Regions from separate parts of the Homo sapiens genome. Here region 2 is linked to region 1. The links come from fine-mapping of genetic effects on gene expression. A gene starts in region 1. The other region holds a variant in brackets. All regions are shown on one strand. Distances are between the middles of the regions. Region 1 holds the start of GZF1 (GDNF inducible zinc finger protein 1). Region 2 overlaps NAPB (NSF attachment protein beta).

Evidence for each region. PIP is the estimated chance that this variant, and not a neighbour inherited with it, causes the effect. A credible set is the group of variants that fine-mapping cannot tell apart.
Region 2: its variant is the best candidate, but not a certain one, in a credible set for the expression of GZF1 in whole blood (INTERVAL, PIP 0.50).

The regions. Positions count from the first base shown.
Region 1 is chr20:23,359,472-23,364,847 of GRCh38, reverse strand. It overlaps GZF1 (GDNF inducible zinc finger protein 1), which reads right to left and starts at 2,666. Exons shown (of 6, transcript NM_022482.5): 1 at 2,611-2,666; 2 at 1-485. The coding sequence starts at 464. RefSeq lists enhancers at 1,067-1,126, 2,941-3,200 and silencers at 2,381-2,870, 3,291-3,380.
Region 2 is chr20:23,401,308-23,406,683 of GRCh38, reverse strand. It overlaps NAPB (NSF attachment protein beta), which reads left to right. Exons shown (of 11, transcript NM_022080.3): 2 at 3,612-3,691. Among named protein-coding and RNA genes, the nearest start is that of NAPB, 17 kb to the left of the region's middle. The variant G/A (reference allele first, on the strand shown) is at 3,037.

The DNA.
Region 1 (5,376 bases):
GAGCCACTGCTCACCTCCACCTCCTGAGACTCTGAGAAATTTTGCAACTCCAAAAGTACTGACTCTAACATCTGTTTCTTTAATTGAAAACAAGTTTCTGATAAATCCAAACATTTCAGCTTTTCAGCCACTTCCAGCATTCGCTGCACCCGATCTTCTTCCACCTGTACCTTTGCAGTGTAGACAAACTCAAGAAATGAAGCAAAGTCAGCAACCTGCACTTCATTTAAGTAGACATTAGTCCTAGTACCATCCACACTCTTCTCATTAAGGAACACTTCCTTAAAAAACTTGCTGGTGGCAGCCAGCACTGCCTTGTGGGCCATGAAGTCTTTGCGGACACCCTGATACTCCACGCTGACTGTCACGTCACACAGGTGACCCAGGAGGCGAAGCTCATGCATCTCATGCAGTAGGTTAAATGGGGAGGATTTGGATTCCAGCAGAACTGCACCGCTTTCCATCTTTCTTCCTTCCAAAAACAGCTTTGAAAAAGAAACAAGAATTATGCATGAGCAACCACTGATGCAAAAGGACTAAAATTTATGAGGATTCCTTCAGTACTTGAGAGGATATAGACTCATTAACAACCTAGCTTTACTCAGGTAAAGATTCGAATGACATTTTACTTCTTAGCAGTTTTCTAAAGTGAGGTTCCTCATGCATTTTCCTAAGGTAATAAATTGGCATGAAAAATAGTGTATTCTAAGGTTTCCTCCAGTGATAAACAAATGATGGAAGTTGTGATTAGTGAAATACATTAACACAGTAATTTGCTCACCAAGGTCACTGTCTAATTTGCTTACATAGTCCCCAAAACTGTAAAAGAATTCATGGCAACAATAATGTCTAGTTCTCTGATCAGGAAACCAGATAATTAAAACACATAGCCACCACCATCTGGGAGCAAATCCAAAACCTCAGGGAATCATTTCTGCCTTTGAAAAGAACCAACTAAATAACTACTTTCCATGAGGAAAACTTCTTGGAAAAGTAGTTCACAATTCATCGCCCATTCCCAACATCCTAAACTCCTCAGAATTTGAATTATTGTTACTCTACTGAAATAATGTTAAGTTCCACAGCTTTTACAAGCTGTGCTACTTTGAGCAAGCAACTTCTCTGAACCCATTTCCTCCTCTGAAGAAGGCTGACCGGCTGTTACCAGGGTTCCATGAGCCTGAAACTTGTTGGCTAGTTTATTGGTTTCCCACACATAGGCCAAGGTGCTACAGTGATCCCCATTTCATAGATGAGGACCTATCAAGGTAACAGTCAATGGCTGGTTGGGACATGAGCCAGGGCCTGGTGCCCGGATTCAACTCAGACTACTCAACACACTCTTCCCCTCAGCCTTGCCAAAGGCAAAGGGCTATCTTTAGCCCCTAAATCTTTCCACTGCAGCGGGCATGCAAATTTCACCAACCCCACCTAAGGCCTCCAGATACCGTCACCCCATCGTCATTTCTGCTGCTTTGCCACAAACTCCCTGAATGTGTTTTCTCCCTGCCCTTCAGCTCCTGAATCTACCTTCCTCTTTGATTCCTGTTTCCATCCATCCAAAGCACATGCCTTCCTTCTAGCCTCCTTCGGCCAGACCACAGATGTCACCTCGGATTCAACGTGTCTAGAAAAAAAGTTGTCATCATCTTCCCTGATAAACTAGTCCCACCCCTCTCCCCTTCTCCAGTCTCATCAATGAGACCGCTCCCCACAACTAGCAGTCCCTCAAACATGGAAAAGACTGCCCTCTGGGAGTTCCGCTGTAAACAGGTACCTATGAGGCTTGATCAATGTCGCCTGAAGGAGACGCCCCAGTAAAACTGTGAGAACACTGACAAAGCCTAAGGAAGGGATCTATAAGAGTGGGGCTCTTATAGAGCCACTGGGGTTTCAGTGGTCCCAGCCCCAGCCTGGGGAAACAAGACTGCAGAGGGCTCTCTCAGCCTGATGCCCTGACTTCCCCAGACCTCTGCCAACAGGGCCCTCGAGGAGACCTGATTTCTCAATCAACAAAGTGGGTTCTGAGCGCGATTTCCTATGTTGCTTGGCTACTGGAGTGCAGGCACTGGAGGTGGCGACAGGGCAGTCTGCGGCCGGTGACAGCTGCGTATCCGCCGAATCTCATTGGCATTCCGGCCGCCTCCCAGTGCGCCCGGCATCTGCACCAACGTCGGCGGCCCCTGAATCCCCGAGGCTCACGGGGCCAGAGCCCTTCCAGGAGACGCTGCTACCCGCAGCCCAGTCCACGGCCACAAGGGCCGGGGTTTCCAGTGGGGCTTAAATCCGCCGCTGTCCTCGCCGCCCTCACGGCACCTCCCACCCTTCCCGCGCCACTTGGCCGCCCCAGCGCCCGGACGCCGCTCGGCCACTCCAAAGACGACCCAGAGAACAAACTACTGCAGCCACAGAGAAGCCCCTCCTCGGCCCGACGCGCCGCCTCCCGACGCGGGCATCCGGGGCCGCGTGGATCAGGCCCTCGGGCCGCCCCCTGCCCCCGCTCCCGCATCCCCGAGACGCGCAGGTCCACAGAGCAGCCGGGGCGCGCGGACAAAGAGGCGGCGGCGGGCGGCGAGGGGCCGGAGCCAGGCCTACGGGCCGCGCACTCACCTCCCAGCCGGCGCCCCCGCTGCAGCCGCTGTCCGCTGGACCAGGCCGGTAGGAACGGCCGGCCCGGCTGGGCGTGGCGTAGCACCCTGCGCGGGCACCGCCGATTGGTCGCTGCAGGCCCCTCCCCTCCCGCGGCCGGCCCCGCCCCTGGCGGGGCTGAGGAAGGGGCTGAGCCACACGTCGGGCGGCGGAGCGGTTCGGGCAGTTACCTGATCTGGCCGCGCGACTGACTGGCGACGCCGGATTGCGTCACCCGCCGCATTGCGTCACCCGCCGCGAGCCAAGGCCTGCGCCTGCGCAGGAGACAGCGACGTCTGCGCTGCGGCACGCCACAGGGGGGCGGGGCCAGTCGCGAAAAGTCACGTGAGCGTCAGATTCGCGTGGTCACTTTCGCGTCCATTCCGGGCTTCTGGCCGCAAGGCGCCAGCGCTTCCGGGCCCCAGCAGCCTGCGGTCAGGGCCTGCAGCTGGCTTCCCACTAAGAGCTGCTCACGTCCCCGAGGCCGAGCGCACCCTTAGGGCACGGTGGCCACGCGAGGGACCTCGCGGAAAGCCGGGCTTGGAGCTGGTACTCACCTTGGCTACTAGGGGCGCAGATGCCTCCACGGGCGCTGGAGAACTGGCGCCAGGCGGGGCTCGGCGCGGCGCTCTCCTCTGGGGCGCTTCTTCCGCGGTGCCCCCGCCCTGCTGGGGGGCTCGGCGCGCCAGGAGCCGGGACCGCACCCTGCCGTCTTTACTGCAGGGCTTTATTTCCAGGAGTTCCCATTCGGGCGAAAGCTTTGTTCACTACAGAACTTCCCCAGAGACCCATCCACTCTTCGGGGAAAGCACAATTGATTCCCTAAGATTCGCTGACTCCTCGAAATCTTGCTGTTTCCACCAATTCTTGCTCAATACTAACTAAAGCCCGCTTTGAAACACCTTCCTTGAGTCAGACTTCCAGTTCTCAATAAACTGACCTTGCCTTTTGCTCCCAGCCATTGGTAAAGCTTTGCCAGGTCATGCTGTCCCTTACTGTGGCCAGCAGTTAACTCAGCCTTGTCTTACCGACACGTTGAGTTTGTAATGTTTGGGGACTGTCAGGACAAATACAAATTTAAAATAAGGTTTACTACTTCCTGTTGAAAATATGAGATTTCCCTCCCTTTTTCTTCGAACATTTACTTTTAGAAAATTGGTAATTAGTGTAAGTACTTTTTCCTCTCTTTGAAATATATAAATCCTTTTGAAGACTAGTTAGGCCTTTTTGTGCGCTTTATAACCTAGATATGTCTTTTTCTAGGACCTAGGAGCCATCTCTTTAAGTATCAAGGGAGTTAATGCCCCTGTCTCCCAGTTTTAATGGGGGAGTAGGAGCCTAACTTCAGTGGGCCCTTTGCTCCAACTTACAAAATTATCTCATATCATAAAGATACAAGTTTCTTTTTCCTCTAGATAAAGCCAATTGGCTAACACAGAGGATCATCCCAAATATCAGGTTAGATGAACTGTGTGTGATGAAAAATGCTGCCAAGTTCCCTTGAGAGCTAGTTATTGTTTATCTTGAAAATGTGTGTAATAGATTGCTTGGCTGCACAAAAGAGTGAGATTTCGTTCTGTCTTTGCAGTCTCTTAATGGATTGCCTGTGATGGGTATCACATTCTAGTTTAATGCTTATTCAATTACAAAGTGTTTTCTTTCTCCACTACCTTTCTGAAGAGGGTTGGGAGATTGTACTTTTAATTATATTTCCTGAACAGGAGCCAGCTTCCCACACATAGTAGGTGCTCAATAAATATTTGAAGAATGAATGAGTGACAGAAATCTTTCTTAGGCCGACTCTCTATATTTGCATTCCATGATTTGAAGAAATTGGAATGAACGCAGTTTTCACCCATGGCTCCAGCAGGCCCAGAATCGTGTTTTATGATTTTGTTTTGCATTACAAAAAGGTGGTCAGGCACGGTGGCTCACGCCTGTAATCCCAGCACTTTGGGAGGCCGAGGCGGGCCGATCACTTGAGGTCAGGAGTTGAAGACCAGCCTGGCCAACATGGTGAAACCCCGTCTCTGCTAAAATACAAAAATTAGGCCAGGTGCGGTGGCTCACACCTGTAATTCTAGCACTTTGGGAGGCTGAAGTGGGCGGATCACCTGAGGTCAGGAGTTCAAGACCAGCCTGGACAACATGGTGAAACCCTTTCCCTGCTAATAATACAAAAATTAGCTGGGCGAGGTGGTACATGCCTTTAATCCCAGCTATTCAGGAGACTGAGGCAGGAGAATCGCTTGAACATGGGAGGCAGAGGTTGCAGTGAGCGGAGATTGCACCACTGCATTCCAGCCTGGGCAACAGAGGAAAACTCTGTCTCAAAAAAACAAAACCAAATTAGCCGGGAGTGGTGACAGGCACTTGTAATCCCAGATGCTCAGGAGGCTGAGGCAGGAGAATCACTTGAACCCAGGAGATGGAGGTTGCAGTGAGCTTCGATCATGCCATTGCACTCCAGCCTGGGCAATAGAATGAGACTCCGTCTCCGATTATGTTAGCTAGCATAACATAATGCTAGCTTATCCATTCAATACTGAAAGGATTGCTTTAGTTGAGTGTCTTAATAGCTTTAAAAATAGAGGTCATAAGACTCACAGACTCTTTGTGGCAATACTAAATGATAAAGAATGAAGGGCCATGCCTGGCAAGGGTTGTCATGCACCTCTACACTTCAAGAAGAAACTATGCCTTAACTGCCACAAGGTTTTTATTCTCTGGCAGCCAAACAAGCACTGG
Region 2 (5,376 bases), 42 kb before region 1:
AATTTTCCATTTAGGAAACTTATTAGCTGTTTTTCTTTTTTTTTAATGTGTAGATTTGAAGTGGAGGGAAAGGGACATGAAGGTGTGAGAGAAAGCTGTAGCTTATTCTGACACTTCATTTTTGGTATGGCTTGTTGCCATTCTATCTTTCACTGTGTAACATAGTCCCCAAAGGTTTTTGTTTGTTTTTTTGATTTTTTTTGTGTGTGTTGGGGAGGAGGTTTTATTGAGATTTAATACACATACCGTACAATTCACTGATTTAAAATGTACAATTCAGAGGTTTTTAGCCTATTCACAGGGCTATGCAACCACAGCAGTTTTAGAACATCTTCATCACCCCAGAAAGAAACCCTGTACCATTTAGCTGTCATTTTCCCTCACCTCCCTGCTTTTCCCCAACACTCCCACCTCTAGATGTCTTTGCCTGCTTTGCGCTGCTGTAACACAATAACCTTAGCCTGGGTAATGTATAAGAACAGAAATGTATTTCTCACAGTTTTTGGGGGCTGGAAAGTCTGAGATCAAGGCACCAGCGTCTGGTATCTGGTGAGGGCCTTCTTGCTTTGTCTTCACATGGTAGAAGAGAACCAGAGAAAATGGAACCTCCCTTTCACAAGCTCTTTTATTAGTGGCCTTAATACATTCATGAGAGCAGAGGGCTCATGACCTAAACACCTCCCAGTAGGCCCTACCTCCCAACACTGTTGCATTGGGGATTAAATTTTAATTTAGTTTTGGAGGGGACAAAAACATTCAAACCATAGCACTACCAACCACTAACCTGTTTTCTGTCTCTAAAAATTTGCCTACTGTAGACCTGTCATATAAATGGAATCTCACTGTGACTGCTCATATTGCGCATTAATATTCCATTGTATGTGTATACCACATATTATTTATCTGTTAATCGGTTGATGGACTTTTGGGTTGTTTCCACTCCTTAGCTTTTTTTTTGTTTTGAGACGGAGTCTCTGTGTCACCCAGGCTGAAGTGCAGTGACACTATCTCGGCTCAGTGCATCCTCCGCCTCCCAGGTTCAAGTGATTCTCCTGCCTCAGCCTCCTGTGTAGCTGGGACTGCAGGCACCCGCCACCATGCCCAGCTAATTTTTGTATTTTTACTAGAGATGGAGGTTTCACCAAGTTGGCCAGGCTGGTCTCAAACTCCTGGCCCTGAAGTGATCCACCCACCTCAGCCTCCCAAAGCGCTGGGATTACAGGCGTGAGCCACTGTGCCTGGCCACTTTTTAGCTATTATGATTAATGCTGCTGTGAACAGTTGCATACAAGTTTTTGTGTGGATATGCGTTTTCTCTCTTTCTTTATCTCTCTCTTTCATTCTCTTTCTTTCTTTCTCTCTCTCTCTCTTTCTCTGTCTCTCTCTCTTTCTTTCTTTTCTTCTTGACAAAGTCTCGCTCTGTCACCTAGACTGGTGGGCTGGAGTGCAGTGGTGTGATCTCGGATTACTGTAACCTCAGTCCCTCAAGTAGCTGGGACTACAGGCATGTGCCACCACACTGGCTAATTGTTTTTGTATTTTTAGTGGAGATGGGGTTTCGCCATGTTGTCCAGGCTGGTCTTGAACTCCTGACCTCAGGTGATCCTCCAGCCTCGGCCTCCCAAAGTGCTGGGATTACAGGCGTGAGCCTCCTCGCCCCGCCGGGATGTGTTTTAATTTCTCTTGGGTGTGTACCTAGGAATGGAATTGCTGGGTTATATGGTAACATTTTCCAAAGTGGCTGCACCCTTTTATATTCCTCCCAGTCGTATATAAGGTTTCTCCACATATATAAGGTTTCTCCACGTCTTCCCTGACTCTTGTTATTTTTTGTCTTTTGACAGACAGTAGCCCATCCTAGCCATCCTAGCAGGAGCCATGTGGTATCACATGTGTGGTTTCGATTTGCATTTATTCTAGATACATGTTCCTCATGAGACATACAATGTAATATTCCCAAAGGTTTTTATGCCTTCCATACATGGATCTAGATATGATAACCATTCTGATTGAGTACCTGCTCTGGGTGAAGCTCTGCAGTGGCAGCTGTATGTGGATTATTTCTTTTGATCCTCATAATAACTCCTAGGTATACATTATCTTCAGTTTACGCATGCCAAAACTGAGGTGTGAAGGAGTTAAAGAACTGGTCCAGGGCCATACTGTTAGTAGTTATTGCCTAAGGTCTGAGTCACACCTGAGCCTTGCTGTATGCCCAGCCTCTGCTCTGCACTAGGACTTGTGTTGACAGGGAGCTGCAAGCTCCTCTGCTGGAGCTTGGAGTTTAATGGAGTTCCTAACACGTGTGTGCACTCTTTCATGTACATGTGTTCATACCAGGCCCAGCATCCAGTGTCAGCCTTGACCTGTCCTGTCTCTGAGTCCTTATGTCCATACCCCACCGAGTTCCTTGTTATGTATACTGTACAGAGTCTGCTGCATCTCAGTTTTCCACTGTTTATTTTATGATTATAAATAGACAAGATAGATAAACGTCTTTCATGGAGGGGCCTTAGCATAGTAAAAGCAAAGTTAACTCTGGGAGGATTACGGAGGATAATTTTGGCTTTTATGTGAGAAGAAATTTCCAAGTAGCTTAAAGCTGTCCCTCAGTGGAATCAGCTGCTTGGTAAAGAACTTTGCAGAACTGTATATGTCCAAGCAACAGTGGAGGTACCCTTCTCTCAGGGTGTTGTAAAATGCATTTCTCAGGGTGTTGCAAAATGCATTTCTAAACTGGGCCGGACCCTGAGGCTTCCTCCAGGTTGGAGAAGGACTTGCCCTTACCAGAGTTGACATCATACAGCTGTAGAATGTCGTGCCACTTTCTCATAAGACGTGGCTTCTGAATAAACATAGTGCTGAACTCTTGGGAGATAACAGGGTAAAGATGTCTTTATCCTTCAAAATTTAATCTCCTTTGAAAAACGTACTTTTAACTACTCAGACTGATATAAAACTTCCAGCTTTTATAGATGGGAAGGACTCTGATTAAAGATGTAATCAGAATAACATCTTCAGTTTGTAACACCTCTG[G/A]TTCTGGGGTCAGCCAGATCTGTGTTTGAGTCTTTTTTTTTTTTGAGACATAGTTTTGCTCTTGTTGCCCAGGCTGGAGTGCAATGGCACGATCTCAGCTCACTACAACCTCTGCCTCCCAGGTTCAAGCAATTCTCCTACCTCAGCCTCCTGAGTAGCTGGTACTACAGGCACATGCCACCACACCCAGCTAATTTTTGTATTTTCAGTAGGGATGGGGTTTCACCATGTTGGCCAGGCTGGTCTCGAACACCTGACCTCAGGTGATCCGCCCGCCTTGGCCTCCCAAAGTTCTGGGATTACAGGCATGAGCCATCATGCCCTGCCCTGTGTTTGAGTCTTAATTCTGAGCTATCCTTTCTGTGTCACCTCGGGCTAGTTACTTTACCACTTAACACCCCAGTTTCCTCATCTGGAAAACAGGTATAGTAAGAGTATCTCCTTTAAATAGAGGTTAAGATTCTGTAATGCTTGTCTGGCACATAGCAAGTATATACTAAATGTTAATCATTTGAGGGAGGGAGAATTAGAGATGTGGATGGTTGTTAAAAATCTAATTTTTAACTTTTTCTCAGAGGAAACACAAGAATAGAAGAGGCTTGTGAAATGTATACCAGAGCTGCAAATATGTTCAAGATGGCTAAAAATTGGAGTGGTATGTACAAAGTTTTTGTTTGCTTTTTAGGCAAATGGTTTAAAATCACTTTGAAGGGAGAAATGACTGTTTTCCCCTTGAAGAGCAAGACTATTGGCCCCAGAGACAGATGTCAGTGCTGAATAACTGATGTGGCTGCTACTGACATATGGAGACTAAAGGGGTGTGCTCTAAGTGAATGAAGCTGGAAAGCCTGGCTTAAGTTTAAGCACAGGGACAGTGTCTGTCTTAGTTTCTATAAACTTCTTAATACAGTAGGCATGTGGTAACTTAAAATAGTTAAAATTACTTGGAATTAGAGTAATCTTTGCTTCTTACTAATATGTTCAAATAAACACAGTGCCATAAGGAATGAAAGTTGGAATAAAAGTCATTAAAACTAGTGGGATAAAGAGAATTTTCTTTACCTGAACATTGGTTGAGAATGACCATTCCCTGCTACGCAATAACTGATTGTGATTCCACTGAGAACTGAAAGTGGGGTTTGGGGGGAGGGGGATGGATTTACATTAACCTCAATAGACTCTTGGTTATTTTTTAAAGTAATGCTTTCTACCCAGTGAGACCGGGCATAACAAAATTCACAGGATTATTATTTTCATTGGTCTGAGATGGGATGGCTCTTTGAGAGAAATTCATCCCTCTCCCTTCAGCGAAAGAGATCTTTCATGCCTTAGTGATGGGATATTTCTGTAGTGAAAATGGAGACCACCGTTGACCAGAGCAGGGGACGTGGGTGTTGTGCTCTGGCTCACAGCTGCTGTGGGATTGGAAGTGGGACTCGCCCTCTACAAGCTGTTTCAAGGCAGACACTTTAAAATCATTTCAAAGGAGAAAATGCTTTTGAGCTAGATGATTCTAAAAGGTCTCTTCTGGCTTTAAAGATCTTTGTAAGAAGTTTAGTTTTAGCTAAGGCTTTAGATATGCTATTTTTCAAAACACACCTACGCCTGAATTATATTGTATTTTTAAAATGGTGGAGAAAACAGTTTGTTTCACATTCCCTCTTTTATTTTGTTCAGGTCTTATAAGTAAAAAGTGATCTTACCTGAAGAGATCACTTACTTACTTATTTATTTACTTACTTAATTTGTTTATTTATTTATTTATTCGAGACAGAGTCTCACTCTGCAGCCCAAGCTAGAGTGCAGTGGTACAATCTTGACTGACTGCAATCTCTGCCTCTGGGGCTCAAGCGATTCTTATGCCTCAGCCTCCCTCGTAGCTGGGACTACAGGCACGCGCCACCACGCCCAGCTAATTGTTTGTATTTTAGTAGAGACGGGGTTTCACCATGTTGCCCAGGGTGGTCTGGAACTCCTGAGCTCAGGCGATCCACCCACCTCGGCCTCCCAAAGTGCTGGGATTATAGGCATGAACCACTGTGCCCGGCTGAGACCACTTATTACTTATTGTATCTGGTGATGAGGTATTCTAACCTTTGGAAATTCCATTTCAGAGAGGCCACTGATCATGTATGTAACTAAGGAGGCTTTGTATGTGCACCCCGCGTCATCTGTTGCCTGGGGTGATGCTCTAGCCTCCTGACATTGTCATACTGCTGCACTTTTCCAGTCTGTTTCCATTTATGTCTGAGGTTGCAATTTTTTGAATTTTGGAAATCAGACCTTGGCGATGACCTTGAGCAGTAGGATAGGATATAAATAACTCCCACGTGCCTAGCG